Linked DNA regions of Homo sapiens. The protein of the gene in region 1 purifies or fractionates together with the protein of each later gene. This does not show direct contact. Each region holds a gene or a part of one and is shown on either strand. Other genes may lie near its edges.

What was found.
Region 2: the proteins of NQO1 (region 1) and LYPLAL1 fractionate together in Homo sapiens (co-fractionation; one large-scale study listed by BioGRID). This does not show direct contact.
Region 3: the proteins of NQO1 (region 1) and TKFC fractionate together in Homo sapiens (co-fractionation; one large-scale study listed by BioGRID). This does not show direct contact.
Region 4: the proteins of NQO1 (region 1) and CMBL fractionate together in Homo sapiens (co-fractionation; one large-scale study listed by BioGRID). This does not show direct contact.
Region 5: the proteins of NQO1 (region 1) and AKR1C3 fractionate together in Homo sapiens (co-fractionation; one large-scale study listed by BioGRID). This does not show direct contact.
Region 6: the proteins of NQO1 (region 1) and POLDIP3 fractionate together in Homo sapiens (co-fractionation; one large-scale study listed by BioGRID). This does not show direct contact.
Region 7: the proteins of NQO1 (region 1) and ANXA11 fractionate together in Homo sapiens (co-fractionation; one large-scale study listed by BioGRID). This does not show direct contact.

Annotation. Positions count from the first base shown.
Region 1 is NC_000016.10:69,709,142-69,713,407, reverse strand, and holds the end of NQO1 (NAD(P)H dehydrogenase [quinone] 1), read left to right. Parts: intron 1-278; coding exon 279-380; intron 381-2,126; coding exon 2,127-2,432; 3' UTR 2,433-4,007; downstream 4,008-4,266. UniProt on the Homo sapiens protein: Flavin-containing quinone reductase that catalyzes two-electron reduction of quinones to hydroquinones using either NADH or NADPH as electron donors.
Region 2 is NC_000001.11:219,194,056-219,198,321, forward strand, and holds part of LYPLAL1 (lysophospholipase-like protein 1), read left to right. Parts: intron 1-4,266.
Region 3 is NC_000011.10:61,335,980-61,340,245, forward strand, and holds part of TKFC (triokinase/FMN cyclase), read left to right. Parts: intron 1-224; exon of another isoform or gene 225-270; coding exon of another isoform or gene 271-411; intron 412-1,961; coding exon 1,962-2,151; intron 2,152-3,086; coding exon 3,087-3,197; intron 3,198-3,274; coding exon 3,275-3,456; intron 3,457-4,266.
Region 4 is NC_000005.10:10,283,541-10,287,806, reverse strand, and holds part of CMBL (carboxymethylenebutenolidase homolog), read left to right. Parts: intron 1-1,310; coding exon 1,311-1,453; intron 1,454-4,266. UniProt on the Homo sapiens protein: Cysteine hydrolase. Can convert the prodrug olmesartan medoxomil into its pharmacologically active metabolite olmerstatan, an angiotensin receptor blocker, in liver and intestine. May also activate beta-lactam antibiotics faropenem medoxomil and lenampicillin.
Region 5 is NC_000010.11:5,097,068-5,101,333, forward strand, and holds part of AKR1C3 (aldo-keto reductase family 1 member C3), read left to right. Parts: intron 1-366; coding exon 367-483; coding exon of another isoform or gene 484-531; exon of another isoform or gene 532-1,109; intron 1,110-1,734; coding exon 1,735-1,812; intron 1,813-2,259; coding exon 2,260-2,382; intron 2,383-4,266. UniProt on the Homo sapiens protein: Cytosolic aldo-keto reductase that catalyzes the NADH and NADPH-dependent reduction of ketosteroids to hydroxysteroids.
Region 6 is NC_000022.11:42,601,177-42,605,442, reverse strand, and holds part of POLDIP3 (polymerase delta-interacting protein 3), read left to right. Parts: intron 1-2,282; coding exon 2,283-2,673; intron 2,674-3,335; coding exon of another isoform or gene 3,336-3,386; coding exon 3,387-3,473; intron 3,474-4,266. UniProt on the Homo sapiens protein: Is involved in regulation of translation. Is preferentially associated with CBC-bound spliced mRNA-protein complexes during the pioneer round of mRNA translation. Contributes to enhanced translational efficiency of spliced over nonspliced mRNAs.
Region 7 is NC_000010.11:80,171,038-80,175,303, reverse strand, and holds part of ANXA11 (annexin A11), read left to right. Parts: intron 1-2,434; 5' UTR 2,435-2,442; coding exon 2,443-2,497; exon of another isoform or gene 2,498-4,033; coding exon of another isoform or gene 4,034-4,266. UniProt on the Homo sapiens protein: Binds specifically to calcyclin in a calcium-dependent manner. Required for midbody formation and completion of the terminal phase of cytokinesis.

The DNA.
Region 1 (4,266 bases):
AGCCAGCACTGATTTTGGATATGGTGACAGCCTCGTCCTAAGCCACATGTGGGGGTTTGGAATCCTTCATTTGCCCCAGGCCACCGGTCTGTAGACCATCTAGGCTGGCACTCCTGCAGAGTCATATTATGTAGCTCAGGGGAGCCAAAGTATGAAGTAATATAAACAGCAAATAGGACAGACTTGTGTGTTCTTTTCCCTGGAGCTGTTTCATTAACTTCTTGTCACCAAGGGGATGTGGAGGGAAGTGAAGTTTGTTATTGCTTTTTCTTTTGCAGAGTAAGAAGGCAGTGCTTTCCATCACCACTGGTGGCAGTGGCTCCATGTACTCTCTGCAAGGGATCCACGGGGACATGAATGTCATTCTCTGGCCAATTCAGGTACCTCATTTTCTTTTCTTTTCTTTTTTTTCTTTGAGACGGAGTCTCACTCTGTCATCTAGGCTGGAGTGCAGTGACACCATCTTAGTTCACTACAAGCTCCGCCCGCTGGGTTCGAGCAATTCTCCTGCCTCAGCCTACTGACAGGCACCCGCCACCACACTCGGCTAATTTTTGTATTTTTTAGTAGAGACGGGGTCTTGCCATGTTAGCCAGGCTGGTTTCAAACACTTGACCTCAAATGATTCTCCTGCCTCAGCCTCCCAAAGTGCTGTGATTACAGGCGTGAGCCACTGCACCTGGCCAGGTACCTCATTTTCAACGAACCTTCAGGGGAATTCATTCATTGAGCCTTCGTGGGGTTCAAAACCTCAAGATAGCATCTGAAAATAGATCTTGAGTTGTGAAGATGAAAGCATGGTCATAATTCAGAATGATGGGAGCCTCCTTTAAGAACCTGCCTGCCTTCCCAGGTGCCTGTGTGTGAACACACCTGCGTGTGCATGTGTTCAAACAGCATTCTGTCCCAGCCAAGGACTAGTGTGAATCACTACTCTTGATTTGTATAGCCGTGGGCCCTGGTCTCACCAGATGACTGACATCTCTCTCCAGCCTTCCTGTCCTTCTCCAGGTTGCTGATACAGTCCCATAGACTATTAGAGCCCAAGACAATTTAAGAAATGATTTACTGGGAGGCTGAGGCAGAAGGATCGCTTGAGCCCAGGACTTTGAGACCAGCCTGGGCAACATATAAGACCTCATCTCTACAAAAAAAAAAAACAAAATTAGCTGGGTGTAGTCATACACCTGTGGTCCCAGCTACTTGGGAGTCTAAAGTGAGAGACCCAGGAGTTCGAGGCTGCAATGAGCTATGATCACACCACTGCATGCCAGCCTGGGATACAGGGCGAGACCCTGTTTCGAAGAAAAAGGAAATAATTTAGTCCAGCCAGTTTATACATGGATAAAACTGAAGCCTGGGGTGGGCTTATTGGTGTTACCAAACCCTCAAGATAATTTCTATAAAGAGGGAGGTTGGAGAGAAGAGCCAGTGAGTGGCCACTTATGAAAATCATTTATCAAGACTCATCTGGGCCTGTAATCCCAGCACTTTGGGAGACTGAGGCAGGCGGATCACTTGAGGTCAGGAGTTCGAGACCAGCCTGGTCAACACAGTGAAACCCTGTCTCTACTAAAGATACAAAAATTATCTGGGCATGGTGGCGCATGCCTGTAATCCCAGCTACTCGGGAGGCTGAGGCAGGAGAACCGCTTGAACCCAGGAAGTGGAAGCCGCAATGAGCCGAGATCGTGCCATGGCACTCCAGCCTGGACGACCGAGCGAGACTCTGCCTCAAAAAAAAAAAAAAAAAGAAAAAGAAAAAAAGGACTCATCTAGTTATATGGAGAGGCAGAGAAATGCACCCACGCAGGTCTTGGTGAGTCACCTGCCAAGAAACTGAGACTCCCTAAAGTAACAGAACTTCCAGCCTTCTTGGCAAAGGATCCAGGTTGGCACAGTTTCAAGGTTTATGCATTTAAAGAAGAACACACCTGAGAAGGCTAAAATTGGTAACGGCTAGGTAGAGGGTAAGAGAGAGACGCTAGCTCTGAACTGATTCTCTAGTGTGCCTGAGGCCTCCTTATCAGAGTGTCTTACTGAGAAGCCCAGACCAACTTCTGTTGTTTATAGTACAACTGCATGGAATTGGTTGACTTACCTCTCTGTGCTTTCTGTATCCTCAGAGTGGCATTCTGCATTTCTGTGGCTTCCAAGTCTTAGAACCTCAACTGACATATAGCATTGGGCACACTCCAGCAGACGCCCGAATTCAAATCCTGGAAGGATGGAAGAAACGCCTGGAGAATATTTGGGATGAGACACCACTGTATTTTGCTCCAAGCAGCCTCTTTGACCTAAACTTCCAGGCAGGATTCTTAATGAAAAAAGAGGTACAGGATGAGGAGAAAAACAAGAAATTTGGCCTTTCTGTGGGCCATCACTTGGGCAAGTCCATCCCAACTGACAACCAGATCAAAGCTAGAAAATGAGATTCCTTAGCCTGGATTTCCTTCTAACATGTTATCAAATCTGGGTATCTTTCCAGGCTTCCCTGACTTGCTTTAGTTTTTAAGATTTGTGTTTTTCTTTTTCCACAAGGAATAAATGAGAGGGAATCGACTGTATTCGTGCATTTTTGGATCATTTTTAACTGATTCTTATGATTACTATCATGGCATATAACCAAAATCCGACTGGGCTCAAGAGGCCACTTAGGGAAAGATGTAGAAAGATGCTAGAAAAATGTTCTTTAAAGGCATCTACACAATTTAATTCCTCTTTTTAGGGCTAAAGTTTTAGGGTACAGTTTGGCTAGGTATCATTCAACTCTCCAATGTTCTATTAATCACCTCTCTGTAGTTTATGGCAGAAGGGAATTGCTCAGAGAAGGAAAAGACTGAATCTACCTGCCCTAAGGGACTTAACTTGTTTGGTAGTTAGCCATCTAATGCTTGTTTATGATATTTCTTGCTTTCAATTACAAAGCAGTTACTAATATGCCTAGCACAAGTACCACTCTTGGTCAGCTTTTGTTGTTTATATACAGTACACAGATACCTTGAAAGGAAGAGCTAATAAATCTCTTCTTTGCTGCAGTCATCTACTTTTTTTTTAATTAAAAAAAATTTTTTTTTGAAGCAGTCTTGCTCTGTTACCCAGGCTGGAGTGCAGTGGTGTGATCTCGGCTCACTGCAACCTCTGCCTCCCAGGTTCCAGCAATTCTCCTGCCTCAGCCTCCCTAGTAGCTGGGATGACAGGCGCCTGCCATCATGCCTGACTAATTTTTGTATTTTTAGTAGAGACGGCGTTTCACCATGTTGGCCAGGCTGGTCTCAAACTCCTGACCTCAGGTGATCCGCCTACCTCAGCCTCCCAAAGTGCTGGGATTACAGGCGTGATCCACCACACCTGGCCCTTGCAATCTTCTACTTTAAGGTTTGCAGAGATAAACCAATAAATCCACACCGTACATCTGCAATATGAATTCAAGAAAGGAAATAGTACCTTCAATACTTAAAAATAGTCTTCCACAAAAAATACTTTATTTCTGATCTATACAAATTTTCAGAAGGTTATTTTCTTTATCATTGCTAAACTGATGACTTACTATGGGATGGGGTCCAGTCCCATGACCTTGGGGTACAATTGTAAACCTAGAGTTTTATCAACTTTGGTGAACAGTTTTGGCATAATAGTCAATTTCTACTTCTGGAAGTCATCTCATTCCACTGTTGGTATTATATAATTCAAGGAGAATATGATAAAACACTGCCCTCTTGTGGTGCATTGAAAGAAGAGATGAGAAATGATGAAAAGGTTGCCTGAAAAATGGGAGACAGCCTCTTACTTGCCAAGAAAATGAAGGGATTGGACCGAGCTGGAAAACCTCCTTTACCAGATGCTGACTGGCACTGGTGGTTTTTGCTCTCGACAGTATCCACAATAGCTGACGGCTGGGTGTTTCAGTTTGAAAATATTTTGTTGCCTTCATCTTCACTGCAATTTTGTGTAAATTTCTCAAAGATCTGAATTAAATAAATAAAATTCATTTCTACAGACCCACACTCATTGGTATCAGTGAAGCTAATGATAGTGGAATCTAGTGGGAGGCAGATCAGAGGATTCAATCACAAACTGCAGCTGGAAGCCCCTTGGTGACTGGCTTGACAACTCACCCAGCAGGGCTGCTTCCTACTAAATGGTAATAGAACAACCTATTCAGTCCTCTCAGGGAATTCAAAGGAAAGAGAGTGGTATAGAAATCAAGAAAAACAGGCTGCGTGCAATGGCTCACGCCTGTAGTAATCCCAGCATTTTGGGAGG
Region 2 (4,266 bases), on another chromosome or scaffold:
GCTGAACTGTCTGTTGAGTCATGAGAGACAACATGATATAATGGATAAAATCCATTCTATTCTGTCTTGGCGTTAGTTTCCACTTTGTTGAAAGCAGCGTGGCCTCTAGCATAACAACATCACCTTTCTGGTCCTTAGTTTCCTCATTATGTTTAACTCTATATTTCTGTGTTTCCATGTTTAACGTTGATGTTTAACTCTAATAGAGATAAACATGGAGCATTATGGGAGGACTAGGAAGAGTGTAGGGAAGGGATTCCCAACTTAGTCTAGGGGATTATGAAGTAGTTAGAAGATAGAATTCCAAACATGTGAATCATGTATCATTCAGTCATCATTCAATCTTTAGCAAGTATTTTTTAAGTCCCCACTATGTGCTACGCATTATTATAGATGTTCACGGGGATGTGCAGATAAGTAAAGCAAGATCTATCTGCCTTACATATTTCTTACAACCTGAAAGGGCCAATGAGATTCTTAAAGTGGTAACTATAATGCCAGCCAGGCTGTGATGAGTGCTCTAATGTGGTATAACTAATAGCTTTTCAAAGCCAATGATAGTATATATTTCTTTTTATTTCCCAGAACCTATCACAATGCCTGGCACAGAGCAAATACTCAGGAAATCTATAACAAATAACATTACCCAATCAATAAATTGTCAGTACTGTAGGAATTGAGAGGAAGAAGTAGTCACATGCATTTGGGGCTGTAAGAGAAAGATTTAATAGAAAGATGGCAGTGGCATTTAAGATGCACAAATTATTAAAATTTTAACTATTACAGTGTAGAAGTCTAGGTAGAGGGAATGATTTGTACAGTAAAGTAGAAGTGGACAGAGTAATGCTTTTTGTTTTTGTCTGTCTGGACAGTAGTTGGCTGTAACAAAGTTTGTGTCTAACTAAAAAGTACCTGTTGACTCAGATAGCCACAGTAAGAGACTAGAACGTGATGGCATAATGGTGACAAAAATGAGTTCAAATCTACAGTCCACCACTTCCTAGTTGGCTCACCACTTATTACCTACACTTAATTTTTGCTACCTAATCTGTAAAGTGGAAATAATAATATAATATCTGTTTACTGAGAGATGAACAAACTATTTGGTTTCTTCCAGACTCTCAGTAAATACTCTGTTCAGTTTTTAATCCTTTATTTTGTAGGTATAATAACATGTAATAATTGGTAAAGGATCATTAAATAATGTCTTCAAGTCATAAGAATTGTACTTTGAAAAACTAATTTGGCAGAAGGGGTAAGTAAAAGGATGAGAAGTCTGACATGGAGAAACCAGTATAATATAATGAAAGTCTGAAGTGGTGTGGTGGCAATAGGAAAAGAAAAGATCAGGATGAGAAATTGCTTTAAAAAATAAAAGTACATTCTTCATAAGCAAAAAAATAGATAAAAGGAGAAAATACTCTGAGTAGTACTCTTAATGAGTGTGTATTGAAGAGTTTATCACACTGAATGGTAACTGCTGTCCATTTGTCTCTTGCCCCATCCTCTCTCTTCCTTTCCCAGATCCATTACTTTATCTAGTTCATCTTTGAGTACTAGAGATATTATGGATTTTCTGCAGTATATTACATTTTAAAGAATCCTAGTACAACAAAATCAAATCTTTTAAAAATTTTAATTTTATTTTAAGTTCCAGGATACATGTGCAGGACATGCAGGTTTGTTACATAGGTAAACATGTGTCATGGTGTTTTGCTATACCTATTAACCTATCACCTAGGTATTAAGACCTGTATTCATTAGCTGTTTATCCTGATGCTCTCCCTCTCACCGCCTCCCTGACAGGCCCCAGTGTGTGTTATTTGCCTCTCTGTGTCCATGTGTTCTCATGGTTCAGCTTCCAACATGCAGTGTTTGGTTTTCTGTTCCTGTGTTAGTTTGCTGAGGATAATGGCTTCCAGCTCCATCCTTGTCCCTGCAAAAGACATGATCTTGTTCCTTTTTATGGCTGCATAGTATTCTATGGTGTACATGTACCACATTTTCTTTACCCAGTCTGTCATTGATGGGCGTTTGGATTGATTCATGTCTGCTATTGTGAATACTGCTGCAGTGGACATATGTGTGCATGTATCTTTATAATAGAATGATTTATATTCCTTTGGGTGTATACCCAGTAATGAAATTGCTGGGTCAGATGGTATTTCCGGTTCTAGGTCTTTGAGGAATTGCCACACTGTCTTCCACAATCCTTGAACTAATTAACATTTTCATCAACAGTGTAAAAGTGTTCCTGTTTCTCCACAGCCTTGCCAGCATATTAAAAATTCAAAATTCAAAAATTCTTGAATTTTTAATAATTGCCACTCAGACTGGTATGAAATGGCATCTCATTGTGATTTTGATTTGCAGCTCTCTAATGATAAGTGATGTTGAGCTTTTTTTCATGTTTTTTGGCTGCATAAGTGTATTCTTTTGAGAAATGTCTGAAGAGTCATTTATGACAAACCCACAGCCAGTATCATACTGAATGGACAAAAGCTGTAACCATTCCCCTTGAAATCCAGCTCAAGACAAAGATGCTCTCTCTCACCACTTCTATTCAACATAGTATTGGGAGTTCTGGCTGGGGCAATCAGGCAAGAAAAAGAAATAAAAAGTGTGTTCAAATAGGAAGAGAAGAAGTCAAACTGTGTCTATTTGCAAATGACATGATCCAATATCTAGAAAACTCTATCGTTTCAGCCCCAAAGCTTCTTAAGTGGATAAGCAACTTAAGGAAAGTCTCAGGATACAAAATCAATATGTAGAAATCACAAGCATTCCTATACACCAACAGTAGGCAAGCAGAGAGCTAAATCATGAATGAACTCCCATGCACAATTGCTACAAAGAGAATAAAATACTTAGGAATACAAAGGACTTCCTCAAGGAGAACTACAAACCACTGCTCAAGGAAATAAGAGAGGACATAAACAAATGGAGAAACATTCTATGCTCATGGATAGGAAGAATCAATATCATGAAAATGGCCATACTACCCGAAGTAATTTATAGATTCAATGCTATGCCCATTAAACTACCATTGACATTCTTCACAGAATTAGAAAAAACTACTTTAAAATTGGAACCAAAAAAGAGCCCATATAGCCAAGATAGTCCTAAGCAAAAAGGACAAAGGTGGAGGCATCATGCTACCCAACTTCAAACTATACTACAAGGCTACAGTAACCAAACAGCATGGCACTGGTACAAAAACAGACACATAGACCAATGGAACAGAATAGAGATCTCAGAAATAAGACCTCACATCTACAACCATCTGATCTTCAACAAATCTGACAAAAACAAACAGTGGGGAAAGGATTCCCTATTTAATAAATGGTGCTGAGTAAACTGGCTAGCCATATGCAGAAAATTGAAACTGGACCCCTTACTTACACCTTATACAAAAACTAACTCAAGATGGATTAAAGACTGAAATGTAAAACCAAAAATTATAAAAACCCTAGAAGTAAATCTAGGCAATACCATTCACAACATAGACATGGGCAAAGATTTTATGATGAAAATTTCAAAAGCAATAGCAACAAAAGCAGAAGTTGACAGATGGTATCTAATAAACTAAAGCACTTCTGCACAGCAAAAGAAGCTGTCATCAGAGTGAACAGACAGCCTACAGAATGGGAGAAAATTTTTGCGATCTATCCATCTGACCAAGGTCTAATATCCAGAATCTACAAGGAACTTAAACAAATTTACAAGAAAAAGAAAACCCCATTAAAAGGTGGGCAAAGTACATGAACAGATGCTTCTCAAAGCAGAAACAAATCTTAAATGAAGTTAAACACACATATAAAAACAGTAGCAGGAGAGGTTACCTGTTTGAGCACCTATATTTTCTTAGAGGGAATCATGTCTTACCAGCCAGATTGCCCATAAACCTCAAAAAAAGTCACCTGGGAGAAAAATATAACACAAGACTTGATTTTTCAATGTCTGTAAGCCCCCTCAAACCCCAAACTTGGGGCTCACTGAATGAAGATAATTTGTTTTTCCATTTTCTTCTTGAGAAAAAGATGATTTTTAAAAATCAGTGCCTTTGATATATTTTCAAAGTCCGACAATGTGATTGATTAAATCAAGTCTCTTGTTGAATTTTTCTAATGCTCCAGGGTAGTTTTCTGATTGACAGCATATACAGAAGTATTTCAGCATTCATTGTAGAAAAGCTAGCAGAAATGACCAGTCAATTATAGGCACCAAAAAAGAAAAAAAACTATTATTAAACATTTTAAGTAGAAT
Region 3 (4,266 bases), on another chromosome or scaffold:
AATGGGGTTTCTCCATGTTGATCAGGCTAGTCTCGAACTCCCAACCTCAGGTGATCCACCCGCCTTGGCCTCCCAAAGTTCTGGGATTATAGGCATGAGCTACCACACCCGGCCTGTTGGGAAGATTAAATGAGACATGCTCAAAAACACTTAGAACTGGGCCTGGCTCTTAGTCACTGCTCAGCAAATGGAACCAATCTTATTGTTCTTCTTGCTCCCTACAGACCTAGGCTACTCTGAAGCAGGTGGCTTAGCCCTGGCCCTGGCTGGATGCAGGACAGGTTGGCAGGGAGGCAGCAGAGCCAAATTTTGTACAAAGGAGCTGGTGCTAGCAAGCTCAGGAAGAAGCCACAGCCGGAAGTTCACCTTGCCAGGACCTGGCTCAGCTGCAGGTTCCCACCGGGCCACCAGGTGGCGGTGGGAGCCCAGCCCTCTGAGTCCACGTTGGGCCCCAGTCTCACTCTGTCTTCAGGACAAAGCCAGGGGCTGCAGCCCTTGTTCAGCAGACTCTGGCTTTTCACAGCCTGTTTGAAAAAGGGAGTAGCTTCATTTGATTGAGTTTCCACTATATCATGGGCATATACTCTGTTCTAGTAAATCCCTATTTTACAGAGGAAGAATTTTAGCTCCCGACAATGATGTATCTTCCCTGAGTTCCTGCAGCTAATGAGAGGCAGAAGTGGGATTTGAACCCAAGTCCCTGTAACAGCAGAGCTCAAGCCACACTCCATTCTGGCCCCCACGCTACTCACTTCTGTCTGCACCCTGTATCCACTCAGCCAAGCCTGGCGGCACTGCTCTGTAACCCTCCACCAGCCTGTCCACAACCCCTCCTGAGGCTGCCTGTGGCCAGTCCTCTCCTCCCCACCCCTTCCTGCTGGTCACCCGTGCTTCCTGGCACCACCACACTATTCACTCATCCAGGCCTTGGCTTATGCTCCCCCTCTGGCTGGAAGAGCCTCCCTTTTCCCTCCTCCCATGTCTCCTGCCCCCTTTTTCCCTACCCCGGTCCTGCTTATCCTTCCCAGAGACCTCCAGGCCCCTCGGGAGGCTGCGGCCCCTCCTCTATGCTCCCATGGTGCACGTGCGCTCCTCGTGTAGCAGTGCCCACTACACATGGCTGTGACCTCTGCTGTGTTTCCACTGAGGGCAGGAACAGCATTGTTATCTCTTTTTTTATTTCCGAGATGGAGTCTCACTCTGTCACCTAGGCTGGAGTGCAGTGGCACGATGACAGCTTACTGCAGCCATGACCTCCCAGGTTCAAGTGATCCTCCCACCTCAGCCTTCCGACTAGTGGGACTCCAGGCATGCACCACCATGCCTGGATCATTTTTCATATTTTTTGTAGAGATGGAGTCTCATCATGTTGCCCAGGCCGGTCTCAAAGTCTTGGACTCAGGCGATCTGCCTGCCTCAGCCTCCCAAAGTGCTGGGATTACAGGCATGAGCCACTGCACCTGAGCTGTTATCTCTACACATAGTGTCTAGTGCTGGGCCTGGCATACCAAGAGGCTGGGGAAATGTTTGCCCCGCGTTGGAGCACCAGGGAGCAGCGGTGGCTGTGGAACCTGCTCAGCTCCTCCCCCAGCATAGGAGCCTCAGCCTGAGGCTTTTCTTCCTTTTGACAGAAGAAGGTGTTGGGCCCCAGTTTTATTAAAATATTTTACACTGCAGGCAACCACTCCCCCATTTTCTTTGTATTGCAGCCATTTTTTCAGAATAAATTGAAGGTATGGTGCAAGACACTTCATAAATTAGGTACTGAATAGAAAGTCACACATTACTGAAAACTCACAGAAATACCCACCTAAGATGTCGCCCAACTCAAGGAAGTCCTGTGCTCCTGGAGTTCCTAGGTGGATGCGGGAGAGGGGTCTACACCACAGCAGTGTGGCTGCGCAGGATGGGGGTATCTGTACTGACCACATTCTGACCTCCTTCTCACTCCTCCCTTGCAGACCTCCAAGAAGCTGGTGAACTCGGTGGCTGGCTGTGCTGATGACGCTCTTGCTGGCCTGGTGGCCTGCAACCCCAACCTGCAGCTCCTGCAGGGCCACCGCGTGGCCCTCCGTTCTGACCTGGACAGCCTCAAGGGCCGGGTGGCACTGCTGTCGGGTGGGGGCTCTGGCCATGAGCCTGCCCATGCTGGTGAGTATCCTGGGGTGGGGCAGGGGGTACTAGTGGAGTGGACAGGGCCTCCTGGGGGATCCTTAGTGCTGCCATGAAGTGCAGGATGGAGCTCAGCCCAGAATCAGGAACTGGGGTACTTCCCACTCTCCCACTCCCTCCGGCTGGGATCAGGGGCCCATCACGGCCTCTCTGAATCTGTTTCTACATCTACAAATCTACGAAGTTGGGCCAAACAATCTCTCAAGTCCTTCTAGCTCTGAGAGTCGGTGATTCCATGAATCTTCTGGACCCTCCAAGCCCAGCAGACCCACCCCGATTCCATGAAGGCTTCCTGACTCTTCCAGCCTACAGCAGCACCCCTCTTCTGAATTCCCACCTGCTGTGTCCCACTTGTGGACTGTCCTGGCTTCTTTCCTGTGTGGAGCCAGGGACGCAGACTCTCCTTGAGGGCTGCTGGAGGGCAGGGACTAGGATGCGCGTCATTTCTCTGCTTCCTGTCTTCCTTCAGCAAAATCCATTCATTTGGCAAACACTCATGAGCCCACTGTGTACCTGGCGCTGTACTGGGCACTAGGGATACCAGACAGGCAAGGTCCCTGCCCTCGTGGAGCTTATATTCTACTTAGGGGAGACAGACAATAACCAAGTAAACACGAAAGTAAATGAGATCATTTCAGAGGGTGCTAAGTGACTTAGTAAAGACAGTAAAATGGGGCAAAGGAACAGTGAGTCCCTGGGGAGGGAGCTGGTGACTGCTTCAGGCTGGGAGGTCACAGAAGGCCTCTCTAAGATGCCTCCTAAGAAGGAGTCAGCCATGTGAAGACCTGGGGGATCTTTGAGCACCAAGCACACAGTAGGGCTCACCAAACCATGACCCCCGGAGTGTGGGAAGCCCCAGTGACTACAGGCGCGAGTCCCACCCAGCATGCTCACTCCACTCCTTCCACCTCCAGGTTTCATAGGGAAGGGGATGCTGACTGGGGTCATCGCGGGAGCTGTGTTCACCTCCCCGGCAGTGGGCAGCATCCTGGCAGCCATCAGGGCCGTGGCCCAGGCCGGCACAGGTAAGCCTGGCATGCAGGAGGGGCTGCGGCAGGGAGGGCACAGTAAGCACACTGAGCCCTTCCGGCTGCTCCCGCAGTGGGGACGCTCCTTATCGTGAAGAACTACACTGGGGATCGGCTCAACTTCGGCCTGGCCCGGGAGCAGGCCCGGGCTGAAGGCATCCCGGTGGAGATGGTGGTGATTGGGGACGACAGCGCCTTCACTGTCCTGAAGAAGGCAGGCCGGCGGGGGCTGTGCGGCACGGTGCTTATACACAAGGTGGGCTTCCACCGGGGACGTGGAGACTGGCCAGCCCTTTCCAGCCTTCCCTTGCCTGGCAGCACCCAGTAACTGGACCTTTCCAGCCCTTCCCCAAGAAGCTAGTTCTTTTTCTCCAGTGTTCCCTGATCTCAGAAGGCCCCGCCATCCCCTCAGCTACCTAAGCCCAGATACAGGCATTTTCCCAGACTCGTCCCCTTTTCTTCTCCACACCCAATCAGTTGCCCGGTCCTGGTGCTTCTCCTCCCAAATGTACAACACACATCCTTCTCAGACCCCGCCCTCCTGCTTTGCCTTGGTTCAGGGGTCATCTACTCATGCCTGATGGCTGCAGCCACCTCCTCACTGGGCTCCCCTGCCTGCTTCCTGCCTTCTGGCCTTGCTCATCCATTCTCCACACTACTGCCAGAGGTGTCTTTTTAAAATGTGTATCTGACTAGGTTATTCATCCACTGAAAGCCTTCTTGGGTGCCTACAATCAATACAAGCCCTCACCATAGCTCCCTGACTCCCCACCTTCATCTCCCATCATCCCTGCCTTCCTCTTTTTTTTATTTTCTTTTATTTATTTTTTATTTATTTATTTATTTTTTGAGGCAGAGTCTCACTCTGTTGCCCAGGCTGGAATGCAGTGGCGCGATCTTGGCTCACTGCAGTCTCCGCTGCCCAGGTTTAAGTGATTCTCCTTCCTCAGCCTCCCGAGTAGCTGGGATTACAAGGCGCCTGCCACCACGCCCGGCTAATTTTTGTATTTTTAGTAGAGATGTGGTTTCACCATGTTGGCCAGGCTGGCCTCGAACTCCTGACCTC
Region 4 (4,266 bases), on another chromosome or scaffold:
CCTGGGAGACGGAGATTGCAGTGAGCCAAGATGGCACCACTGCACTCCAGCCTGGGGGACAGAGCGAGACTCCATCTCAAAAAAAAAAGAAATTAATTAATTAAAAATTTTAAAATAAAATAGAGATGGGGTCTCACTATAGGCGTGAGCCACTGCACCCAGCGGGGATAGCATTCTTTATGTGATGATGATCAATATCAAACAATATTTTTATGAGCACCATCTATGAAAATAGAGATTTTAGTGCATCTGTCACCGAGTAGTGTACAGTTTACCTAATATATAGTTTTTTGGCCCTCACACCCTCCCACCCTCCCCCTTCTGAGTCTCCATAGTCCATTATATCACTCTATGTGCCTCTGTGAATCTACTCATAGCTTAGCTTCCACTTATAAGTGAGAACATACAGTATTTGGTTTTCCATTCCTGAGTTACTTCCCTTAGAGAAATGACCTCCAGCTCCATCCAAGTTGCTGCAAAAGATATTATTTTGTTCTTTCTTATGGCTGAGTATAGTCTATGGTGTATATAGGCCACATTTTCTTTATCCACTCATTGGTCAATGGGCGCTTCGGTTGCATATCTTTGCAATCGTGCTACAATAAACATACGTGTGCAGCCCACCTCCACTTTGGTACATTGCTTCTAGTTGAAAATGTATTCTGAGTTCCAAACAATCAGTTTGCACATGAATCATTTGCCAGACAAGGGCCACTATTCTTGGTCCCCTCATGGCTGAAATAGTCCTGATGGCGTTCCAAATTTGGCTTCACTGGGCGGCAGGGGGAGGAGACGAGCAATGCAGAGTGGGGAGTTTTGGGGAGAGAGTGAACGTGTGAAGTCAGAGAGTGTCTGGGCGTCTGCCCATAGTTATGGCTGCTCATGGGAGAGAGGAGAGAGGAGACTCTTCTCCTGGGAGACTCAGGGGACAGAGAAGACTGGGGCACTCTGCAGGGAGCAGATCATGGACTCGGGTCTTACGAACCGTGCTGTGGGCTGTGGCCTTCATCCCCAGGCTGTGGAAGACTGCTCAGCTCTCAGCTGGGAGTGAGGCAGTTGGACCTATGTTTTGGGAAGAGCCCAGCTTGCCTGCAGCTGTCAGGCAGTTGGAGGAGGGCTGGGCTTGGCAGGAAGATGTGCTGGGATGATGCATCAGTTGGGCCAGAGGTAGTAAGGGTGGAGCTCCCAAAAGAAGAAACCTTGGCAACTTCAAAAACAGTTGCTGATACAGCCCTGTTATCATCAGCACAGCTCTTTGAGGGGTTCACAAAATAAGCCTGATTCTTGAATATTTTTTCTTTCTGTTCTAGAGAGATCAGTGCTATCTTGAAGTATCTGAAACAACAGTGTCATGCCCAGAAAATTGGCATCGTGGGATTCTGCTGGGGTGGAACTGCTGTCCATCATTTGATGATGAAATACTCAGAATTCAGGGCAGGGGTGTCCGTCTATGGTAAATCTGCCTTGTGCATTTTTACTCCATGCAGAAGGGAGGGGTGGAAGAGTGACAACAATCACAAGCCTCCCCATCCAGTGTAACACAACCCCCAATAATGTGAAGACTGCCCATCTTATGGAAATGGGTTTTAAGAATCTGAAAATAGAGGTGGAGGTTTGTCATGCAGTTAACCAGAGGATGTCACCGGGAGTCAAGAGGTCTGGGTCCCAGTGGTGTGACTTTGGGAAAGCCACCTAATCTAAATTCTCCATTTCTTCACCTAGGATGAAGGGGATAGCTTTTTTTGTTTTTTTAATGTAATGATGATCAATATCACACAAGATTTTTATGAGCAACATCTATGAAAATATTTTTCTGGTGGTGGCTAATGCCTGTAATCCCAACACTTTGGGAGGCTTAGGCAGGCAGATCACTTGAGCTCAGGAGTTCGAGACCAGCCTGGACAACATGGCAAAACCCTGTCTCTACAAAAAATACAAAAATTAGCTGGGCGTGGTCACGTGCACCTGTAGTCCTAGCTACTCCGGAGGCTGAGGTGGGAAAATCGCTTGAGCCCAAGAAGGTCAAGGCTGCAGTGAGCCATGATCATGCCGCTGCACTCCAGCCTGGGTGACAGAGCAAGACCCTGTCTCAAAAAAAAAAAAAAAGAAAAAGAAAGAGAAAGAAAGAAAGAAAGACTGATTTTTCCAAGATACAAATTGCTCTAACTGTACACAAACATGCACACACACTAAGAAAGAAAGCAAAGGCAGCCAGATGCGATGACTCACGCCTGTAATCCTAGCACTTTGGGAGTCCAAGATGGGCAGATGGCTTGAGCCCAGGAGTTCGAGACCAGCCTAAGCAACATAGAGAGACCTTGTCTCTATAAAAAATTTTAAGGCTGGGCGTGGTGGCTCACGCCTATAATCCCAGCACTTTGGGAGGCCGAGGTGGGTGGCTCATGAGGTCAATAGTTCGAGACCAGCCTGGCCAATATGGTGAAACCCCGTCTCTACTAAAAATACAAAAATTAGCTGGGCGTGGTGGTGGGCGCCTGTAGTCCCAGATATTCAGGAGGCTGAGGCAGGAGAATCGCTTGAACCCGGGAGGTGGAGGTTGCTGTGAACCAAGATTGTGCCACTGCACTCCAACCCAGGCAACAGAGTGAGACTCTGTCAAAAGAAAAAGAAAAAAATTACTTGGGTGTACTGGCACATGCCTGTGGTCCCAGCCTCTCAGGAGGCTGAGGCAGGAGAATCACTTGAGCCCAGAAGTTTGAGGCTGCAGTGAGCTGTGAATGCACCACTGCACTCCAACCTGGATGACAGGGAGTGAGACCTTGTCTCTTAAAATAAAAAATAAAAAAAAAAAAGGAAAGAAAGCCAAGGAAAACACACTCTAAAATCGAAATAGCAATTTATACATTTTTGGCCAAAACAAACCAAAGTTACTACAGCAATGAAATAACATTATATCTGTATATAGAAACTGCTTGCTAAATTCATGATATAGAAGCATTCAGACCAATAGATAAACGAAAACAAAAAAGACACATAGGAAATATAGCCTTTAAAAATAATGCAGATGCTCCTCTACTTACAATGGGGCTAAGTCTTGATAAACCCATCATAAATGGAAAATATCTCAAGTCGAAAATGCATTTAATCCACCTCACCTACCAAGCATCATAGCCTCACCTGGCCGACCCGAAACACCTGCATCAGGCTACAGTTGGGCAAAATCATCTAACGCAAGGCCTATTTTATAATAAAGTCTTGAATGTCTCATGCAGTTTATTGAATTCTGTACTGAAAGTGAAAAACAGAATGGTTGTCTGGGTACTTGGGGAACAGTTTCTACTGAATGAGTGTCGCTTGTGCACCATTGTAAAGTCAAAAAATGAAAGTGGAACCATCGTTAGGCCTGGGACCATCTGAAGTGGATCATAAAGTTATACTAATGATTCCTTCTTGGGTTAATGGTTCCTCATTGTGGTATTTTCAACTACTTTTAGAGTTAAAAACGCCTTTAAATATTGACTTAGGACAACACAAAAGGACATAAACTCAAAAGGCAGTGGCCAGCTGCCTCTGGGAACAATGGAGCTGAGAGATGCTTTGTCCAGACCATGCTTTTGCGCGATTTAGCAAAAGGCGGTCGGGAGTGGATGCCTCCCCGGCGCCACCTTCTGGCCGCTGTTGTGTAGTGCGTGAGCTGCAGAGCGTGGCCGGGCTCAGGCCCAGGGATATCAAAAGAGGCCCATCCACATGAAGTAGCTTTGCTAGAGTGGGGAAGGGAGCGTGGTCACCTTTCCCGTGGCTCCCTGCCTCCTGAAGAGGAGTTACAGGTGAAGGAGGCTCTCTCTGTTACTTAGCTCTTCTGCTGCCAGCAGGAAGTGGAAAAAAGTTATGTTATTTACGTCTTCTTATCTTAAAATGGTTAACTTGCTGCAAATCTTTTACTTACTTATTTTCGCATAGAAGTGGACACACCCACAGGTTGTTTTCAGACAACCTGGGTCAGGCAGAGCATGCTTCTAATTTCAGAATTAATCTCGAATGAATGCTGAGATGAAAGATGAAAACTATTGTTATTATTTTTTGAGACAGCATCTTGTTCTGTCACCCAGGCTGGAGTGCAGTGGCACGATCTTGGCTCACTGAACCTCCACCTCCTGGGTCCAAGCAATTCTCCTGTCTCAGCCTCCTGAGTAGCTGGGGCTACAACACCCAGCTAATTTTGTATTTTTAGTAGAGACAAGGTTTTGCGTGGGTGGCCAGGCTGGTCTCGAACTCCTGACCTCAAGTGATCCACCCCGCCTTGGC
Region 5 (4,266 bases), on another chromosome or scaffold:
TAAGCAACATAAATAGCTATTCTTAAGCATTGGGTTGAATGGATAGAAGAATTAGACTGTTAAAATGAGTTGTAAACTCTACTGAAGATAATTCAGGTAACATCATAGTTATTACTTAATACTAATCTTTACATTTTAAGAATTTACTCCTATCATTCAGTAGATGTACAAACTATACATCCAACGTATAATAAAGTTTATAAGGATAGGTCAGAGCCAAAGGAATCATGAGAAGGAAGAGAATATGTTTGCCAGTGGTCATAAATTTTGAAGCAGTAGGAAAATATCTAAATACTAGATGGCACAAAGTAATAAGATTTGCTCAAGCATTCATTCAAAATCACCTCCATTCTTTAACCTCTGCAGCTTTGGTCCACTTTTCATCGACCAGAGTTGGTCCGACCAGCCTTGGAAAACTCACTGAAGAAAGCTCAATTGGACTATGTTGACCTCTATCTTATTCATTCTCCAATGTCTCTAAAGGTATGCAGTTTGTATGAGCATAAAATTGCGCTTCTGCTGTCATTATAAACATTGTTTATCTGGATAGTTGAACAGAGCTTTTTATTAGGAGGATGTAGGGATTATCACACAGAAGAAGAACCGTAAGTGGAACACCTAATTTCCTTTCTTTCGAGTAAATTTTGAATCCTACTTCTCTAATGCACACCTACAAGAGAAGAGAGTACAGCAACCTCAAAGCCTCTTCCTCAAAAACTTGAAATTACAATAGTCTCTTTCAAGGCACTGTCTTAGTTGTGGCTTTTGAGTCCATCTCTTGGGATGTTCCCAGACACAGAGTTTCATGCAGTTGTGGTGCCCAATAAAACTGCTGCACATGTGATGCACAATGAGTTTCCACCATCTCTCCCCATTTCAAGCTGAAGCAGATTTGGTGGAAGCCACTATGCATGGTTCTTAAATTAGAAACCCTTAATGTGGACTTGCAAAGCTTTATTATTCTGCTGCCTCTTCTTTCACAATAGAGTTTGAAGCTGTATTTAGCCAGGAATTACTGTGTAGTGTATAACTTTTGATTTAAAGTTACAGAAAACTACTCAGGCTAGTTAATGCAAAAGAGTTTACTGAGTTATGTAAAATGGGAAGTCAAAGACATGGCTACATTTAAGGATATGAAATAGTCTACAAAAATGTATCATTTGTCTATTCTTATCTCTAAACTCCAACACTTTTTTTTATTATTGTTGACCCAAACTTTTTCATTGGTGGCGATTATGGCTTTGGAGCAGCTCAAGGCTCATGGTCATCACCATAAGACAACTCCTCTGGGTCTCCCAACTTCTGCTGACCCTATGTGATTCACAGTCCTGCCCAAAGACTATCAACTCTTCAGGTGGTCTGATAATCCTACCGTGTACAAGAGTACAATCCATTATTTTTGGATATCAAGGTATTTCCAAATCAAAGAGAGGTACTTCAATAGAGGAAATTATAAGGGCGGAATAAAGTGACATAAGTCAACTGTGAAACTTGATTAAGACCTAGAAAATGGTCCTTTTCCATGCATATAATATTTGTAAGAGATTAGAGGAAGCCTGTCTCCTGAATACATTCCTTATACCTTCATATGTAAAACACTTAGCACATATCACTTTCTGGAGCATTGTACCACCTGTCTCATGGAGGATTAGTGTCCTTAAAGGTACCTGGGGTTACAGCTATGAGTGGAGAAATTAATTTGTGACATCATTAAAATGACTGCTTCTATTTCAGCCAGGTGAGGAACTTTCACCAACAGATGAAAATGGAAAAGTAATATTTGACATAGTGGATCTCTGTACCACCTGGGAGGTGAGTGCTTGGCGGAGAGGACACAGAGAAGGATGACAAAAAGAGAAAATCTGTTTCCCAGGTTCAATAGGAAAGAATGGAATATGCACCATTAGATCTAGAAATTCAGAAACTTTACAAGAGTAGCTTTGGTGAGATGAAGGGAAAAACACAAAAGGAATGTTTAGAGAGTGGGGCACAAGACTTGGGGGCAAGGAGGACAGGAATCTCTTTCCTTGCTTGTGCATTAATCTATCCAGTTTCCTAAGGAAGAGATAGAAATTCTTACTCTTGCTGCCTCTATCTTCTTCCCCTATTTGCTGTTTGAATTTTTCTTTTTTTGACAATCACTGCTAGCTATTTTCATTGTCATACTTTGAAAGTTGTTGCTCTCACAGTTCTGTCTTGCATTTACCGTGATTTGCAGCCAACTGCACAAATAATTCCTCACAACCCCTTTCTCCACAGGCCATGGAGAAGTGTAAGGATGCAGGATTGGCCAAGTCCATTGGGGTGTCAAACTTCAACCGCAGGCAGCTGGAGATGATCCTCAACAAGCCAGGACTCAAGTACAAGCCTGTCTGCAACCAGGTGAGCTCCCTTGGCCTTCTCTCCTTTCGGTTCTTCATGCCCCCTCTTCCTGTCCTATTGCCAAATATCTGTTTGTTTTGTCCCAGTTATCTTTGTGAAGTAGAAGATTATCTAGAGAGCAAAGCTTCTGTCAAGAAAGGCGTGAAGATTTCTTGTTTGTACCCTGCTTGGAAAAGTATTAGGGAAAAATTGGAATGAGTTTAATGCTGAATCGTGTGTAATATTTAGGGGAGGTCCATTTGATCAGGGAGGCCTGGAATCATCAATTAGAACTCAAGGAAAGGTGGACTTACCTCTAAGCTATGAAAGATGACCAGAAAGTGCATGGGTGAAGGTGATTTGGAGGGAATGGTGTATAGATATGAAGCTAGGAAAAGATGAAATGAGCTGTACGTGAACAGAGAGTTAGAATAAGAGAAGAGAGGTGCTAGGGGTTTACATGGAATTTGGATGTCTGAATGCCTCTTCTTGATGTTTCAACAATTCTTGACCAGGGGCATAGATATACTAAAAATTAGCTGCAGACAATGAAAGTCATCCATGTCAGAAAGAGAAAAATTAGGCCGGGTGCAGTGGCTTACGCCTGTAATCCCAGCACTTTGGGAGGCAAAGGCAGGTGGATCACCTGAGGTTGGGAGTTTGAGACCAGCCTGACCAACATGGAGAAAGCCCATCTCTACTAAAAATACAAAAAATTAGCTGAGTTTGGTGGCACACGCCTGTAATCCCAGCTACTTGGGAGGCTGAGGCAGGAGAATCGCTTGAACCCAGGAGGCAGAGATTGCGGTGAGCCGAGGTCACGCCATTGCACTCCAGCCTGGGCAACAAGAGTGAAACTCCGTCTCAAAAAAAAAGAGAAAAATTACCTGTTTATGGAGGTAACTGTTCACAGTGGATGAAATCAACACTGAGGAACTTTAGCAGAACATAGACCTGACCTATCACTGCCCATGTCTTAGTCTGCTACTTCTCTTTGGGGTCTGTCATCCAATCAGTTGTTTAAACACATCTATTCTATGCATGGTTTTTTCATAGCTTAGGGATAAGTCCTTTTTTCCCCCTGAGTTATTGTTAATGATTCCAGGCCTCCTTGATCAAATTGACTTCCCCCAAATGTCACAAAAAAATTCAAAATTAAAGTCACTCTACCTTTTTGCTAATTTACACTTTTTTATTCTTTTATACAACTTAGAGCCAATGAGTAAAGATCTACCATTGAAATGTGAAGTGTATAAAATTTGTGAATTTGGCCTAATGATACAGTTCCATCATATCCAAATAGAAACATTAAGAAAATGCAGTTTTAATATTAGTCCTTCAATTTTTTATTATGATAATTTTCAAACTTTCAGAAAATTTGATAAAAATAATACACGATTCAACATAACCATTTATATTCAAAATTGTTAACACTTTGCCACATTGCCAAATATTTATGGCAAATGTTTATGTGGGTATATCTGCATAAATACATATAATATTTTCAAAATCTCTTTAAAATAAATTGGAAAGATGACAATTCACCTCTATAGACCTAAATAAAGTATGTCACAGAAATGAAGACATTCTTCCAGCTACAGTATAATTATTGTATCTAAGGAAACGAACTGCAATGCCCTCATGTCGTTTAACATCCAGTCTATATTTGAATTTCCCACTGTTTAATGGAAATGTCTTTTATAGTGCTCCCTTTTAAAACAGAATGGAAACAAGTTGTGAGCTGATCTGTTCTTTATAATCATAGGTTTCCCATTCAGCAATTACTTATAATCCACTGGGTGATAATTCCTAACAGAAGAAGTCATATTCCATGACAAATTTTCACATATGATTGTGTAAACATCACTAATACTTTTGTATTTAATGGTTATTTATTATTGTATT
Region 6 (4,266 bases), on another chromosome or scaffold:
TTATAAAAAACAGAAACTGCCGGGCGCAGTGGCTCACGCCTGTAATCGTAACGCTTTGGAGGCCAAGGCAGGCGGATCACGAGGTCAGGAGATCGACAGCATCCTGGCTAACACGGTGAAACCCCATCTTTACTAAAAATGCAAAAAATTAGCCGGCCGTGGTGGCGGGCGCCTGTAGTCCCAGCTACTTGGGAGGCTGGCGCAGGAGAATGGCATGAACCCGGGAGGCGGAGCTTGCGGTGAGCCAAGATTGCGCCACTGCACTCCAGCCTGGATGACAGAGCAAGACTCCATCTCAAACAAAACAAAACAAAACTGAAGAAAAGAAACTTCCTTGTCACAGAGAGTCTGGGAAGTCCAGGATCAGGATGCTGGCAGATTCCATGTCTGATGAGGGCCTGCCTGCTTCCTGGTTGTAGATGGTCTTTTTGCTGAGTCCTGACATGGTGGAAGGGGCCAAGGAGCTTTCTGGGGCTTCTTCCTTATAAAGGGCACTAATCCCATTTGTGAAGTCTCTGTCCTCATGACTTAATCACTTCCCAAAGGCCACCACCTTCTACCACCATCACATTGCAGATTAGGCTTCAACAGAGGAATTTTGGGGGGACACAGATGTTCAGTCTGTATTACCGCCTTAGGTTTGGTACTGGCATATTGGAGGCAGCAGGTGTTTTTCCATTATTTGAGGGATAACAAGATGAAGGTCCACGTTTGCTTTTATTGGTACCAGGTAGACTCACCTTTGGCTGCACTTCTGGTATTCATTAGCAGAGGAACTGACAGCCAATCTCACTCCAGCCACTGGAATGCAGCAGTGGGAGAGTGCCAGTGACTGACCCAGTATGAGAGATGCCTCCTGGGAGGTCCAGGCAGTGAAGTGGGAGGCAATACAGGAACTCGTTTATGCAGCAGAGTTTACCCTCTAACAGCAGGTCAGAGATCCTCAACATGGCTCTTCTCCAGAATCACCCATGGAGTTAAAAATGCAGATGGCCAGGCCTCGCCCCAGATTTTGGATTCAGCATCTAGGGTGGGATCTGGACAGCTCTGTATTTAAGAAGCTCCACAGGAGTTTCTGACACTCAGCCAGGGCTCGATGCTGCTTAGGAGGTGCTGGGCCCTGCAAAAGGACTGAACCCCATTCTCCTCCCCCCGCCCCACCCAGGGTAGGGAGAGAAAAAAGGAAACAAGCAGGTATAATAATAGGCACAGAGGAGAGTTGGCCTGGAGAAATCCGGGAGGGTTTCCCAAAGAGCACCCCTTGACATAGGAGTCCGCAGGCAGAGCGTCTGCCGCATGAGTGGCCGTTGAGGGTAGCTATTGTAGAGAGGCCTGAGGGTGGGAGGCGACAGAAGAAGCCCAAAGACCTTGGGGAGGATCTCCAGCGCTATACTCAGGAGGGCCTTCTGTTCACTTTCAAGCCACTGTAGGCCAACAGAGGAACCCAAGAAAGAGACCGGGGCCTGTTTATGGAGTTTCATTCATTTCCAGTTAAAAAAAATATTTTATTTTAAATTCAGGGGGTACATGTACATGTTTGTTCCATGGATTATATTGCATACTGGTGAGGATTAGGTTTCTAGTGTACCCATTACCCAAATAGCGAACCCTGTACCCGATCATTTCCAATTTCAGTGGTTTCTGTATTTGATATTTTTGCTATTGCAATTTTTTCTTTCTTTCCTACCAAGTCTTTGTGTTTTCTGTTTTCCTCTAGCTCTAAGCCAGACCCATATGTTTGCTCTCTTGGTCTTAGCCCAGTAGATGGTGTCTGCCTTCCTTAGAGACACTCTTTGTTAATCATTGAGCCTCTCCAAACCTGCTTCTCCCACTGTAAAGTGGGCATAGTAAGTACTTCTCAGGGTGCTGAGAGGGCTGAGTGAGAACATGGATGGGGATGGGCCTTGGAAACTAAAGTTACTCCTCAGATGAGTGGGATTAGATTTGGTGGATGTTTATTTTATTTGACTGGCATTGTTGGGAAGTTATTGTCCATGTTGGTGTCTCAAGACACGTGGTCTAGGAAGCAAAACACTCTTAACTAGGAATAAAACTTGCCAGCCCCTCTCTCTTAATTTTGCTTAAAATGCAAAGTTAAAAGCCATCATGAAACCAGGAAAGGAGTCATCATGTAGGCATAATCGTTTATTCAATCACAGGCAAGGAGCCGCTTTCTGATTCTCCAGGGCCTCCTCTGTCCCCAGTGTTACCACAGTTCCGCTTTCATAGACTGCTGTAGATACCCAGATCCACTTAATATTGATTGCAATTTATATTTACAGGCTTAATGCCAGACCGGGAGTTGGAGGTGTCCGATCTCGAGTTGGGATCCAGCAAGGCCTTCTCAGCCAGTCAACACGCACAGCCACCTTCCAGCAGAGATTTGATGCCCGGCAGAAGATTGGCCTCTCAGATGCCCGGCTCAAACTGGGAGTCAAGGATGCCCGGGAGAAGCTTTTGCAGAAAGATGCCCGATTTCGAATCAAAGGGAAAGTGCAGGATGCCAGAGAGATGTTGAACTCTCGCAAGCAGCAGACCACGGTGCCCCAGAAGCCCCGCCAGGTTGCTGATGCCCGGGAGAAGATCAGCTTGAAGAGGAGTTCCCCTGCTGCCTTCATAAACCCACCCATTGGGACAGTGACCCCTGCTCTGAAGCTCACCAAAACCATCCAGGTGAGTTGTGGCTTTTGTCATGAATTCCCAGAAAGCTAGTAACAAAGGTAGATTTAGAGGCAAGGTGCCAGGAGTGACTGGGCAAAAATACTATCCTCTCAAGTGTTGGCATAATACAGACTTTGCTCCTTACAGAGGCTTTAAGTACGTTATAGCCAAGGAACTATACAAGGAAGGAAAGGTATTATCTCAGTTCTAAAAAAAAAGAAAAAGGAGGCCCATAGAAATTTGGTGACTTTCCCAGGTGAGATACTGGTGGAAGAAAGAGAGAGGAAAGGACAAAAGATTTATTGAGCACATGCTATGTGGCAGGCCCTTAATATCTGTGACCTTACAGTCCTCACTCCACCCCCAGGCCCAGTGGGATTTGGCCCCTAGTCCAAGGCCCTGGCCACCCTTCACAGCTGCCACCACAGAGGGAAAGGAAACAATGTCATTTAACCTTCATAGCAGCTTTGGTAATAGGAACAGCAGCGGCCACAGCAAACATTTACTGAGCCAAGTCCATTAAGCCCTACATGTGCGTTACCGGCATGGTCTCTGGATTGATGATTCTTCTGTTACTTCCTACTGTGGAGGATAAGGCCCTCTGTAGTGCCTTTTACCAAAGACCAAAGCTGCATGCCCACCATGTATCAAGTTCAGTAACCCCCTTCTTCTAGAGAATGCATGTGGACCCTGTGGGGTGGATTCTGACCACTGAGTGTTTCCAGGTTCCACAGCAGAAAGCCATGGCACCACTTCATCCCCATCCTGCCGGAATGAGAATCAATGTTGTCAATAACCACCAGGCCAAACAGGTAGAGTGAGTGAGTGAGAGAGAGAGAGAGAATCTGTGTGTACATAGCGAACATGTAGGTGTGCACGTGTTTTGATGAGGCCTACTTGGGTGGATGGACTGAGGCTTGCTCAGTTGGTAGTTCCCAGTTGGTAGTATTGGAGGCAGGGTTACAGCGAACTTTTTGCAATTTGAGTTTAAAGAAGAAATTTTTTTTATTTTTTTATTTTTTGAGACGGAGTCTCGCTCTGTCGCTAGGCTGGAGTGCAGTGGCGTAATCTCGGCTCACTGCAACCTCTGCCTCCCGGGTTCAAGTGATTCTCCTGCCTCAGCCTCCTGAGTATCTGGGACTACAGGCGCGTACCACCACACCCAGCTAATTTTTGTATTTTTAGTAGAGATGGGGTTTCACCATGTTGGCTAGGATGGTCTCAATTTCTTGACCTTGTGATCCCCCCGCCTCAGCCTCCCAAAGTGCTGGGATTACAGGCGTGAGCCACCACACCCAGCCAAGAAGAAACTTCTTAATAGAGGAAGGGAGGCATAGGGGGCAGAGAGGCTAAAAAAAGTTTTGTTTGTTTTTTTTAATTTTTTTACGCTTTTTTTTTTTTTGTCTTTTGTTTTGTTTTTTTTTCCTTTTTCTGGAGAACGGGGTCTCGCTATATTGCCCAGGCAGGTCTCGAACTCCTGGGCTCAAGCTATCCTCCCGCCTCTTAGCCTCCCTGAGAGCTGGGATTACAGGTGTGAGCCACCGCGCCCGGCCTAATTTTTTTAAATAAAAGTTCTATGTGCTTAATATAGAAAACTTGCCAAAA
Region 7 (4,266 bases), on another chromosome or scaffold:
TCACCTGTCGGGCAGTTCCTTCTATTAGAAGGTTCCTGGCCTACTGGTCATTTACATCCCCCAGATTACCTCCTCACCAGTGAAGTCTGAGGGTTTGGCAGAGTCTGGGCAGAAGGGTCAGGCTGGGGCCGGGACGGGGAGGGCTTTGTACTGACAGCCCACCCAGCCTCAGGGACACCCTCTCTGAAGGTGATGCCACCGGGGACCTCATCCACCACGTGCTTAGGGGCTCAGAGAGACCGAAAACTGCAAGGAGTAGGTCCTTGGTCCACACTACAGGGAGCCAATTCCAGCTTTCTCCAAAGCCATAGGGCTTTGCCTACGGTCACCTCTGGACCCACTGACCCAAACAAATGACTACACCCGTAGGGCTGAAAACCAGGCCCACCCTATGGGGACCGGTGGTACCTTAAGGAAGTTCTTTAGCTTCCTTAAAAACAGCATGTAGGCTGGGCACAGTGGCTCATGCCTGTAATCCCAGCACTGTGGGAGGCCGCAGCGGGCAGATCACTTGAGGCCAGGAGTTCAGACCAGCCTGGCCAACATGGCGAAACTCCATCTCTACTAAAAATACAAAAATTAGCCAGGGATGGTTGCGCCCTCCTGTTGGAGGCTGAGGCACAAGAATCCCTTGATCCCAGGAGGCGGAGGTTACAGTGAGCTGAGCTCGCACCACTGCACTCCAGCCTGGGTGATAGAGTGAGACGCTGTTTAAAAAATAAAAGTAGGCCAGGCATGGTGGCTCATGCCTGTAATCTTAACACTTTGGGAAGCCGAGGCAGGCAGATCACCTGAGGTCAGGAGTTCGAGACCAGCCTGGCCAACATGGTGAAACCCTGTCTCTGCTAAAAATACAAAAATTAGCCAGACATGATGGCGGGCGCCTGTAATCCTAGCTACTTGGGAGGCTGAGGCAGGAGAATCACTTGAACCCAGGAGGCAGAGGTTGCAGTGAGCCGAGATCACACCATTGCACTCCAGCCTGGGTTACAGAGTGAGACCCTGTCTCAAAAAAATAAAAATAAATAATAAAAAAACTTAAAAAGAACAGCATATACCAGCCTCGGCAACATAGTAAGACTCTCAAAAAAAAAAATTAGCTGTGTGTGGTGGCACATGTCTTTAGGAGGCTGAGGCGGGAGGATTACCTGAGCCCAGGAGGTCCAGGCTGCAGTGAGCCATGATTGTGCCAGTGCACTCCAGTCTGGGTGACAGAGCGAGACCCTGTCTCAAACAAACAAAACCCAATATGCCCAGTTCTTCAAGATAGATATGAAGGGCAGCTAGACTCTTATAGTTGGATAGCGTGGCTAGAACAGTGGTCTTCAAAGTGAGTTCCCTGGACCAGTAACATCATCTGGAAACTTGTTCCAAATGCAAAAACTGGTTCCACTGTCTCAGAAACTCTTGGTGGTGGAGCCCAGCAATGTGTTTTAACAATCCCATCAGGTGATTCTGATATGCATTGCAGCGTGAAACCCAGTGTGTAAAAAGAAGCCACATACTCGAGACGAGCAGGTGTGATTGTTGAGGGACCCTGCAGGTTTCCTCACATGTCCGCCTGCCATTGGGTGTCTCTGCAGACTGCAGCAGCAGCTGCTATTAGCAAGAGCAGGCAGGTTGCACAATGTGGCTGGTGTCACAGCAGATCTGTGTCCCTCCTCACAATTTAACTGGCAGGGGACATTGCCAAGGGATCCGTGTTCAGAGGGACTTCGTGAGAGCAGGTGTCTCACCTGGCACCTGTCCAGGCTGCTCTTCCTCCCTTACTGACAGATCTGCAAATCACTTACTTCTCTTAATCAGCAGCCTCTACTGCAGAAACAGGGTGATGCTGCCTCATTTGCCCTGGTTCTTCACCCTGCATCAGATGAACCTCCTGAGGGCCCTTTTTGCTTCTAGGAACGATGATTCCATACCTTACCAGGTCCCCTTGCCTGATGAACCAGAGGTTGGAGAATGAAGAGAGACAGGGGCCTCTGACTTCCCCTGTTGCTGGAGGGATGGCAATAAGGACACAGGAAGATAAATAGACAGACCTGGAGTCCTGAGAATGAGGCAGTGCGTCTCTACCTCTGAGGTGGGAGAACAGGCCCAGAGGCGCACTGCACCCTTGCCAGCAGAGGCAGGAGCAAAGCTTCAGTGAGAGGGCCTTTCAAGGAAACTGGCTCATGGGGAGTGAATCCTGTCACTGTGGGTGGGGCCGGGGGTGTGGCCCTGGCCCAGAAGTCAGGCAGCATGCTGGTGGGTACTGTTTCTAGCTGGAGGCACCAGCAGGAGACAGTGAACTGGTCTGCGACAAGCAGGGCAGATGCAGCAGTTTCTTCTGCAGGGTCCCAGTTGTGGTGGTGGCTGCCCTTTCAAGAAGCTGGGTCCCACGGGCCAGCAGGGGCTCTCAGGCAGAGCCTGAATGTGCTTTCGTCTTCTCTTCCAGATCTAACCATGAGCTACCCTGGCTATCCCCCGCCCCCAGGTGGCTACCCACCAGCTGCACCAGGTAAGAGGGTCTGGGGTGGGGAGGAGAGTGAATGCTGCCTCTGTACAGTGGCTGGGAGTGGAGAGGGGAGAACAGTAGTTTCCTCACTCCCCTCCTCCCCTCACAGCACGGCCCAGCAGGGGAGGAGAGGACAACAGGAGTAGTGGGACAGCCAGCCGAGGCAGGGGCTGGAGAAGAGCATGACACTAAGGCCATCGGAGGCCTAGGTTTGAAACTGCCTCCAGAAAGCCCTGGACCAGGCCCAGGGCTGGGTCTCTTGCCTTACTCTCTAGTAACAGTGGGCAAATGCTGTCACTTTGAGACTCAGTTTTCTTCTCCGCAAAATTGCTTCAAGGATTTCTCCCTCATTAGGTGGTCCTGGATACTGATGAGATAGGCAGGCAGAGCGACACGGTGTCCTCCAAAGCATTGCTAGGTGATGGTTGCCCCTTACCACCTCTCCTACCCTCTGCTCAAGGTGTGTGGGTTTGCAGCAACAAGATCCCCCTTGCCAAGAGAGGAAGTGGAGGCAGATGCTAAGGGTCAAAGGTCACTCCCTGTTTTCTGCAGGAGCTGTGGGTAGTCACATGGAGAAGTCGTCTTCTCTGGCCCTGGCCCCTTTTGGTCCTCAAATGAGATTTGGTCCCCACTGTGGGAAAGGAAATATGAGGGCTCATGAGACCAAGGGGAGAAAAGGGTCATTCCAAGGCTGGTCATCCTGAGGGTGCCTGAGCCGCTGCCCCTCTCCCCAGGGGACTCCTAGGCATCATTGATTTCTTTGGAGCTGAGGTCCTGTGGTTTGAACACCCCAGACCTGCAGGCCATTTACCTTCCCTCCCATTCAGCAGGTGAAGAACAGACTCAGACCTAGAGGTGGCTCAGCTGCTGTCCCAGGGCATGTTAGGGGCTGAGCTGGGCCACTGCCCTCTGAATGAGCCCACCCCAGGTTGGCTGGCACTGGCCTGGGTTCTCTCTCTATAGTAGAAATCCTGCCATCCAGATCCTGCCACTGCCACCTTTGCTAGCACAGCTGAGCAGCCTCTGAGCAGCAAGAGAGGAGGAGGCAGGAAATTTAGGGAAGGTTCTTCCTGGAGGGTCTGGAGCCCTGGAGATGAAGAGCCGATCCGAAGCTGCCATGTAGAGGAAAGCATCTAACAGGCCAGAGGCCCCATGATGATGTCGAATGCCCATCGGGCACCCAGCTGAGCCCTGCAGGTGTTAACTCAGTCTTCGTCACAGCAGTCTAGGCATACACTCACCATTAGCCCATTTGTAAGCTGAGGAAACAAGCCTAAGGAGGGTGAAAGCCTTGCCCCAGGGCACATACCGGTCCTGCTGGTTTCAGAGCGGGCTTTTCACCTCTGTTTCTTCCTGTCCTCTTGTGGACTGGTATCTGTGTTTACCATGACCCAGCCCCATGTCCCTCCAGCCTCTTATCCTGCTTCTCCCTGCCTTTTACAGACTTGTAATAGCAAACAGCCAAACCCCCTCCCGCCAGTGCCTTCGCATTACTGAAATCTCAGAGCTCCCTATGGTCACCTCTGTCATGGGCTCAGCATGGTGTCCCACAACAGTCTGTCCTTGTCTGTCCTCCTGCTCCATGATGGTGAACTTGGGAGGGCAGAGCCTGCCTGGGCTCTCCCAGCCTCCTTAATACCCCACAGAGGGTCTTGGGAGTGTTTGGGGAACTCCACCTTCCTCCCTGGGAAGAGGGGAAGGTTTCCCCTCCTCTGCCAGTGGGATAGGGGGAGACTTTCCTCCTGGTGTTTTCATGTGGTCTGTGGTGTCCC